Linked DNA regions of Homo sapiens. The protein of the gene in region 2 purifies or fractionates together with the protein of the main gene of each other region. This does not show direct contact. Each region holds a gene or a part of one and is shown on either strand. Other genes may lie near its edges.

What was found.
Region 1: the proteins of ZNF668 (region 2) and TENT4B purify together in Homo sapiens (affinity purification with mass spectrometry; one large-scale study listed by BioGRID and IntAct). This does not show direct contact.
Region 3: the proteins of ZNF668 (region 2) and ZBTB11 purify together in Homo sapiens (affinity purification with mass spectrometry; one large-scale study listed by BioGRID and IntAct). This does not show direct contact.

Annotation. Positions count from the first base shown.
Region 1 is NC_000016.10:50,159,672-50,163,330, forward strand, and holds part of TENT4B (terminal nucleotidyltransferase 4B), read left to right. Parts: intron 1-3,659. UniProt on the Homo sapiens protein: Terminal nucleotidyltransferase that catalyzes preferentially the transfer of ATP and GTP on RNA 3' poly(A) tail creating a heterogeneous 3' poly(A) tail leading to mRNAs stabilization by protecting mRNAs from active deadenylation.
Region 2 is NC_000016.10:31,064,181-31,067,839, forward strand, and holds part of ZNF668 (zinc finger protein 668), read right to left. Parts: intron 850-3,659; exon of another isoform or gene 620-849; intron 506-619; exon of another isoform or gene 439-505; coding exon of another isoform or gene 392-438; intron 302-391; coding exon of another isoform or gene 280-301; coding exon 1-279. UniProt on the Homo sapiens protein: May be involved in transcriptional regulation. May play a role in DNA repair process.
Region 3 is NC_000003.12:101,648,295-101,650,825, forward strand, and holds the end of ZBTB11 (zinc finger and BTB domain-containing protein 11), read right to left. Parts: 3' UTR 595-2,531; downstream 1-594. UniProt on the Homo sapiens protein: May be involved in transcriptional regulation.

The DNA.
Region 1 (3,659 bases), about 19 Mb from region 2:
ATTTAATTTCTGTGCATTTGCAGATATAGCCCACAGTAATTCTTAGTGAACTAGAACCTTCAGGTTATTGAATTTTACTGATTTGGGTACTGACATGCGCTTTTAAGAAGACATTAGGTTTTCTATAGTGTAGATTGTACACTAACAATATAATTCATATTTAAGAATGTCTCAAAATTTAGTATACTGTGTTCAACTAACTTAACTTTCTTTGTTTTTTTTGTTTTGTTTTGTTTTTGTTTTTTGAGACGGAGTCTTGCTATGCCACCCAGGCTGGAGTGCAGTGGCGTGATCTTGGCTTACTGCAACTTCAACACTCCTGGGTTCAAGTGATTTTCCTGCCTCAGCCTCCTGAGTAGCTGGGATTACAGGCACCCGCCACCACACCGGCTAATTTTTGTATTTTTAGTAGAGACGGGGTTTCGCCGTGTTGGCCAGGCTGGTCTTGGACTCCTGACTCAAATGATCTGCCTGCCTTGGCCTCCCACAGTGCTAGGATTACAGACATGAGCCACTGCGCCCGGCCGCTAACTTAACTTTCATTCCACAACTTCCATCTTTTATCCAAAATCTGTGATCATTGAATACTGTCACCATTAATCATTGGCATTTCAGTGTTTGGACTTTTTTTTTCCCCCTTCGTCTTTGTGGACTCTTTTTTAACACTCATAAAGTTTTAACTATTGAAAAGCAAAGGAAACGGTGAGTGACTTTTTGGAGTCTGTCTACCCAGTGGTCACACAAAAGGCTTACTACATTACAGGAAAGATAGGATGGGAAAGGGATACTAGAAAATTCTAAGTCAGGAACGGGGGTGTGTATTAGAAAAATTCTGATCCTGGCATGCCAGATGGCCTTACATCTCAATTTCTTCCGTGAAATTCCTGCCAACAAATCATAGTGTTAGAAGTACAGAAGGGTCCATGGGAACAGAATTTAAGGGCTCCGTTGGTGATACGGAACTGATCAGATGGTTCTCACTTGTTCTCAGATAACCTGTATACTGAATATCACAGGAAGGGTATAGACGTCATGGCAGTGGTTAGATATTCTTGCACCTGCTGAAGCTGAGAAAATTAAAGTAATTTTTTTTCCTGTGGAAAGTAGAAAATCAAGCTTTTGTATGATTTCACACAGCTTTCTATTCTCTCTTTTGTTGACTCTGTTAAGAGTAACATTTAGTGGTGGAAACTATTTCAGGATCACACCCACAACACTAGAGACTGTATTAATCACTTACACACACATAGGTATAGAGTAATCTTGAAGGGGCTGTAGGCCAAAGATAATGCTTTTTTGAAGAATTAGAGACTAGTTACCAGCACCTGGTATTTGCTGTTTCCTACAGAGCTGACTGGACAGCCTAGAGTCTGCTGAGGAATTCAGAGGATGGCCAGTAGAATGTTCTTTCCACCCCAGAATATTTGGTAGGGACTCAGCTGCTGTGGAATGCCAAAAAGGCTTTGAGTTTGTTTCACTATTCTTAAGATTACACGTAATTGTTTTTTTGTAAGAGATTATATATATTCAAGTTGAGGATGGCTTTGAGTTAGACTTTCCTTAATTTGGAATCACACAGCAGATGATACATTTATTTCCATCTGATAAGTTACTTGATGATGTAAAAAGACATTTGAGTTAAAGATTTTTGGGAAAAAAGCTGAATGTTGAGCCATTTATGTTGTGTACTGGTTCCCTATTCACTTGGACAATTTTAAGTCTTAAAACAATCTTAACCATGTGCACAAGAGATTTCACATAGTATTTGGTAATTAAATTAAGGAATTCTAGCTCAAGTCATGCTTTTTGCTGAAATAGTTGTATATATTTAGTGCGGAAACCTGTGTTTTCAAATTAATGTAATAAAAGTTTCAATAAAATGGAAGCCTTTATTACCGTGTTTCAAATGCTATGCTAAACCTTTTCCATTTGTTATTATATTAACCTCCTCATACATAGCCCTACTAATTTTTTTACTTTCTATTTTGAAATAATTACAGATTTATAGGAAGTTGTGAAAAATAGTACAGAGCCCATGTTCCCTTCACCAAGTTTCACCTAATGGTAGTAGCTCACATAACGATAATTTAATGTCAAGAACCAGGAAATTGTCATCGTTGCAATCCATAAGCCTTTTTTAGATTTCACCAGTTTCACATGTATTTGTGTGTGTGTGTATATATATAATTGTATGCAATTTTATCATGTGTAGATCTGGATAGCCACTGTAACAGTCTATAGTTCTATATACAGAGCTACTCCATCACCTCAGGGCTCCCTATGCTACCACTTTATAGCCGCACGCACCCTTCCAGCAACCACTAATCTGTTTGCATCTCTGTAATTTTGCCATTTTGAGAATGTTATATAAATGGAATCATACAGAATGTAACTTTGGCTTTTTTTCTTTTACCATACTTCCTTTGAGAGCCATCCAAATTGCTGCATGTATCAGTAGTTCATTTCTTTTTACTATTGAGTAGTAGTCCATAGTATGGCTGAACCACACAATTTGTTTAACCATTTACTTATTGAAGGACATACCAGAAGGGTGGTTTCCAGTTTTTTGGCTATTGCAAATAAAGCTGCTATAAACATTCATGTATATAAATATTTTTATGTGAATATAAAGTTTTCATTTTGGGGGAATAAATGCCCAAATGTTTGGATTGTATGGTAAGTGCATGTTTGGTTTTTAGAGAAACTGCTGAACTATTTATTTTCTAGAATGACTATATCCTCTTATATTCCTATCAACAATATATGAGATATCCAGTTTCTCTGCATCCTTGCTAGCATTTAGTGTTACCACTTTTTTATTTGAGCGGTTCTAATATGTGTAGTGATAGCCTGTTTTGCCTTATATTAATCAATAAAAATAGCCTCATCTAATCTTAACTTTTTTTATTTTAAAACATCTTGGCAGTATTGAACTTTCTCAATGAAAAATCTCTAAAATTGTGACTTGAAAGGCTTTAATTTTCCAGTTTTTCTTTGGTTTTACTCTTAGCAGTAACATTTTAACTTTTTTTTGTCTTTGAAGTAATTTTCAGTGTTTCCTTTACATGTTGCTTTTTCTTAGAAACTAGTTACTAGCATGAAGTAGATCTTTAGCCTCGTTTTCTAAAAACATAAAAAAGTAAAACTGTGGGGTTTATTTCAAAATTGAGAGTCCTGTCTTTTCATATGAGGATATTTTATAGTCTGTTGGCTTGGCTATATTTTAGGGAGTAAACCTGTGGTTAGTGGTTTGTTGTTGGTGGTGGTAAAGTTTTCTTACAGTATTTTTATACCTGAATAATACCTTTAGACTCTATAGAATAGATACTTGATCTTCAAATCTATCCTAGAATAAATTGTTTTATCTAAACAGCTTTGTGACCTGAGAATTGGGACTTAGTCCCTTAGTTTTCCCTTACTGGCCCTTTGTAGTCACTGTTTTGATTTTGTGAAAGTAACTTAACTCTTAGCACTGTCAGGTATTGTACATTCCTGCCAAAGCAAGAATAAGAATACATAGGATTGTGTTTTAATTCTATAATTAGGTGACTTTTGGCTAATTTCCAGGAACTTGGACTTAATAAAGTACTAGTGATAAGTTTGGAAATTTTAGTGTCCTTGTTCTTTGAAGTTATTCACCCTTTACTTTCTTGTTTGTT
Region 2 (3,659 bases):
GTAGGCCTTGGGGCATAGCGGACACGCATAGGGCCTAGGCTTGGCCGCGGAGCCTGACACCTTCTCCCCACTGGCTTCCTCTGCCTTAGCTTCTGTCTCTGGCTTTGGCTTCACCTCGGCCACCTCTTCAGAGCAGTCTGCCGGCCCATGTGTGGCAGCGTGGCGCGCTGCCCTGGGCGCGTTTGGAAATGTCTTGGTACAGGACAGGCACTTGTAGCGGCGGCCCGAGCGCTTGTAGCCGGGGGCTGGGGACCGGGCCTCTGCAGCCTCCACTTCCATGGCCTTGGTGAACGGGGTTTCTCTGCAAGAGAAGCAAAGTTAGACCAAAGCCACATACCTTCGCCACTCCTGAAAGCCTCAGAGAGAACCCTATCTCATCTGCATTTCTCACCTCGGAACCCACACATCCTTCCTGCCCAGCATTCCTGGCTCTGACATCCTGCGTTCGTTTCCTCCCTGATCTGCTCATTGAAGAAAGGAGTTGGACCAAGTGTCCGCAGAGCCACTAAGAAAGGAGGCTGAGGGTCACAAAAGATTCACCTACACGTCCCCCCCCGCCCCCAACGGGCTTTTCCAAACACTGTGGCATTCCCAGAGGCCCAGGTTCCATCTGTCTCACCATCTTCCTTCTTCAGCTCAGTGTCCAAGAACTATGCCAGGATAAAGAGTGTACCCAGACGTGGGCCTGGCCTGAAGGTCTCCAAGCGCCCAGAAAAGACAGACCTGGGACCAGAAAAGGGCTGAGCCAATGGGCTAAATCTGGTAGCTGGCACTGTCTGGAAGTGACAGGTCCCCAGCATTTGTGTTTTCTTTCCTCCTCTGGATGGTTAGTCCTCAGAGACAGCAACTGTTCACACAGAATTCTGGCCTTGCACAGCTGTACGGGCCTCCGCCCCAGACTGGAATCTGTCCACTCTCTGCTCTGGAATCTTGTTGGCCTGTTCCCACAACTCTGGTAATGGAGAATCACTCAAGGCAGCCTGAGCCATTGCTAGCAGCTGGAAGCCTCTTTCTGAGTCATAACTGATGTATCTGATCTAACATGGCCTCCTGGGATACCAGCTCTAGCTGAGATCCCTACTTTCTGGTCCAGAACCCAGACGCCCTCCACCCAGCTGCTCCTGGGGATCATGGTTGGGAGGAAACAGGATTAATGGCTGTATTAGTCTTAACACCAGCTCATCCTCCCTGGGGGATGAAGGGAAGAGGATTATGGCAGATCCACTTAAGGAGTGCTCAGCAGCTGCTGCTGGGGGAAGGGGTCTGAGGAGTGGGGGCTGCAGGGAGCCAGGTGTGCCCAGAGGCTAGGGGGCCTACGTTCTACTTGCAGCCCTGTGGATTACTATGAGACCTCAGTGAAATGAGTGTTGTTTATAAGACTATTTCCGCCCGGCTGGGCGTGGTGGCTCACGCCTGTAATCCCAGCACTTTGGGAGGCCGAGGGGGGCGGATCACGAGGTCAGGAGACCGAGACCATCCTGGCTAACACAGTGAAACCCCGTCTCTACTGAAAATACAAAAAAATTAGCCGGGCGTGGTGGCGGGCGCCTGTAGTCCCAGCTACTCGGGAGGCTGAGGCAGGAGAATGGTGTGAACCTGGGAGGCGGAGCTTGCAGTGAGCCAAGATCGTGCCACCGCACTCCAGCCTGGGCGACAGAGCAAGACTCCGTCTCAAAAAAAAAAAAATAAAAAGACTATTTCCTCATCTGGACACGTTAGGGGTTGGTGGCTTCTAAGTTATGACACTGGGGTTCAGGAGGAGGAAACTGAGCTGAGCCACGAGGGTGCTAGGGGAAATACAGAGACTCAGGGCCCCTTATGCCAGGAAAGGGCGGGAGAAGCAGCTTACCTGGTTGACCCAGGGAGGACACAGGAGCCCCTGACGCGTGGCAAGGGCCACATCCTTAAAGTCAGCACCCTTCTGCCTGAAATCCCGGCCTCAGGCCTGCACGCTGCCCTCCCTCCCCAACCCCATGCAGCCGGTCTTCTCCCAAAAGTAATGAATGATGTTTCCTGTTCCCTGCTCAAGAACTTTCCATGGCTTCCACCACACCATGCAAATCCCCAGGTCCTTCCTGCTTGTTCCAAATCTGACAAGTCCTTCACTGGAGCCCCACTTCCACCAGGAGGATCCTCAAGCATCTCCCCTTTGGGTTTGGCCCCAATCCCACAAAACTCCATCTTATTCTCACTTGGTTATTTCACTTTTCCCACTAAATCCTAGGGCTTAGCCAGGTGTGGTGGCATGCGCCTTAAGTCCCAGCTACGTGGGAGGCTGAGGCGGGAGGATCCTGTGAACCCAGGGGTTCGAGGCTGCAGGGAACTATGATCGTACCACTGCGCTCCAGCCTGGGCAACCTGGTGAGACCCCATCTCTACTAAAAATAAAAATTAGCAGATGTGGTGGCATGTGCCTGTAGTACTGCCTACTTGAGAGGCTGGGGTGGGAGGACTGCTTGAGCCCAGGAGTTCAAGGCTGTACCACTGCACTCCAGCCTGGGAGACAGGGCAAGACACTGTCTCAATCAATCAATCAATCAATAATCAATCCTGGGGCTTGAAGATAAGTTAAAGGGACTGAATTCTAACCTTTCTGATGACTTGAATTCTTCCTACAGTTTCCAAGGGATCCCTCCCTATTTCTGGATGAGGTACTCACTACCTCTTCCAGACGGTTTCTGGAGAGTCTGCCTGATAATGTTCCTCCTTAATAAAAATGATAGCTTGGGCCAGGTTCAGTGGCTCACACTAGCACTTTGGGAGACCAAGGCGGGTGGATCGCTTGAGCCCAGGAGTTCAAGACAAGGCGGGTGGATCCCTTGAGCCCAGGAGTTCAAGACCAGCCTGGGCGATATAGCAAAATCCCATTTCTACAAAAAATACAAAAATTAGCCAGGCATGGTGGAGCATGCCTGTACTCCCAGCTACTCCAGAAGGCTGAGGTAGGAGAAATGCTTGAGCCTAAGGAGACTGAGGTTGCAGTAAGCCAAGATGGTGCCACTGCACTCCAGCCTGGCAACAGAGTGAGACCCCATCTCAAAAATAAATAAATAAATAAATGATAAAAAAGATAGTTCACATTTACTGAGCACTCGCCAAATACCAGGCAGTATCCTAAACTCCTTATGTGTATTAGCTCAGTTACCCTTCATGGCAACCCCATGAGGAAAGTTCTATTATTCCATTTTCACAGATAAGGGAACCAAGGTCCAGAGAAATGGTTCAGTATTTTGTTAAGTGCCCAGTCCCTGAAGCCAAACTGTCTGGCTTCAGATTTTGCCTCCATCACTTCCCAGCTGATGTGACCGTGTGTAATGTACTGCATGTCTTAGAACCTCAGTTTTCTAATCTGAAAAATGGAGATAATGACAGTACTTACCTGACAGAGTTGGGTGAGGAATGAATGAGTCAAAAATAATTACTGTCCTCAATTATCAAAGCGTCTTCTTAGAGCCAGACACATTGCTGGGTGTGCTGGTTTATTTAATTTAATGTCTTATACCTTTCTGAGATAGGGATTCTTGTCCCTACTTTACAGAGGAATAAATCGAGGTTCCAAGAGTTAAGTGACTTGCCCATGGTCCCACAATGGGTAACCTAAGCAGCTGGGACTTCAGTCCAGGTGTTTAATTTGCCTTAAGTTGCTGGGGTCTTGCTCA
Region 3 (2,531 bases), on a different chromosome or scaffold from region 2:
CAGGGAATAACAACAGTGATTCAAATTGCTTAGTAGCAGTAGCAGTAACAAGTAGCCAAAAGTGCTTAAGGCGTCCATATTTGATCAGGAGACACCCATAGTTTTTGGAAGTCATCTCATGACAGCAATATGCTTTATGTTTCTAAAAAGGAATTGTTATAAATTAACAATGCCCTCTTGGTAACATTAAAACTGCACTGAATTTTTGGAACCTTCTTAACATTTGTTTCTACATGGAATTTATATAATTTACAAATTTACATTATTCAAAGCTGATGGTTGATGGCACAATATATAATCCTGTGACAAGATTATGAAAAGGAAGTTCCCAGATATCCTCACAGGACATGAGACAGGGGTGTGGCTCATTTGTTCACCCAAACCCCTTACAGGAGGGGAAGCATGCAGATGGGCAAGTGCAGGAGCTGGATTGAGTGCTTTTGGGCTCTGGCCCCACAGTAGCATCTGGTGGGGGGTGTCTGCAACTCCCAAAGCCCCAGTGGGAATGTTACAGGGCTCCTTTAGCTCTGCTGTCTACAGATAGCTTAAGTGTTAACTAGCTCAGTGCCCTCTTGGTACCTGCGTTCTTGTCCAGCGTCCAGGAAGAATCAGGTCACATGGACAAATTGAAGGATGGTAAATGCAGGGGATTTTATTGCTGGATAAAGGTGGCTCTCAGCAGGATGGATGGGGAGCTGGAAAGGGGATGGAGTGGGAAGATGATCTCCTCTCCAACCGTCCCCAGCTGAACTCCTCTGGACGTTTAGATGCTCCTCTCTTCTCTCCTCTGCCGCAACACTCTTCTGCTCATGGAGCCTGGGGTTTAGGGTTTATATGGATACAGGATAGGAGGGCGTGGTGGGCCAAAAGGCAACATTTGGGCATGAAAACAGGAATGCCTGTTCCCATTTAGGGCCATGGGTTTCCAGGCTTTTGCTGGGGAACTGCCCTCTTCTACCCATTATTTCCTTGCCTCTTGTCCATATCAATTATATGTAAGAGTAAGAAGTTTTAATATTGTGTTCCTCCAATCGTTATTTTTTAGTGTTTTATTTCCTTTCCCTTTAAAAATAAATTAACTTAATAACACATCAAGTAACAACTGATTTATGAACTGAAAATAGTAACAAGCTCAACTCCAAAGTTCATGCTTTTCAACAAGATTCAACATCTTTTATTTACATGTTTATGACATACATTAATGGTCATACACAATTTTTAAACTAAATCTAGTAACAACAGAGGATGGAACATAAAAGACACAATTCCAAATTTTAGTCAGGTTGAAATGTTTTTCCACTAACTGAAAGATAAGATAAATGAGCAGCCATTATAAAGTTATGGGCTGTATGTCAATTCACGTCTTAAAATTGAAAGTCAGCCACACAGCTGTTAAAACAATGGGAAATTTGCAAATGCAAATATATAATGCATGCACAGCTATCACATTTATTCTTTATCCTTAAAGCCATTTTTAAAGTAAACTGGGAGAGGCAACTTAGTAATATATGTACATCAAGGCACATTCTTTTCTTGTGCTTTAGGAATGATTTACATGTGATCTGCTTATATCTTAATTTTATACTTTATAACAGCTTCTAATACCTAAAAGCTTAATTTTTAACAATTATTCTTTGAGTGGTAGTTTCCCAGAGAGAAATGTGGCATCTCTCATGGTTATTTTCAAAGTCAGAAAATTGGATAGCTTGAGGAGGTGGGATTTAAAAATCAAACATATGAATTAATATAACTTAGTTTTCATAACCTTTAAAAATAATTTATCTTCAACAATTTAGTGGAACTGTAATCAATTTCTTCAAGTATGATACTATGAGGGCTGCACTGAATAATTTTCAACATTCTGAAATTACCTGACAATTACATGGTATCCACAGAGCTGCTGTGAATGTCTATATTGCTATCTGATTTCTCAACTGCAGTTTTTCAACCAAATTAAACAATTAAACATGATACAAAAGCTGAAAACATACCAAATCTAGTTTGTTTGTTCATTAACTTGTTCATTCTTTGCAAATAATGAGAATTTTTTTTTCCATTAATTGTCCTATGTTATCAAGGAGAATTTTCCTGTCAACAGTGTTTAATAACTGTGTTCTTTTCTCATGGTCAATTTACTTGCCTTGAAGAAATAGTATAGTAAGGTTTTAATAAGCATTTCATGCATTTTAATGGCATTTTAAAAATTAGCTATTCATTTATGGGTTCCTCATATAGATAAATATATTGTGCAAACTTGATTACAACATGTAACTCATAAGTGCTTTAAAATAGAATAAAGCATCCCTGACTTAAAAGGGGATAAAATAAATAGTAAGTCAAGAATCACAGATCTAAAGCATTTAAAAAACGTAATATACCTATGCATCCTATTGAAATGCTTTATATTAGAATTTTCTTTTTAATCCATAAACAGGGCAAATAAATCACAGAATCTCTATATTTTGAGAATAAAACAGAAGAAAAGCCAACTGGTGCAGCCTTTTAAATGCAAAATGTATAATAAAGTAATG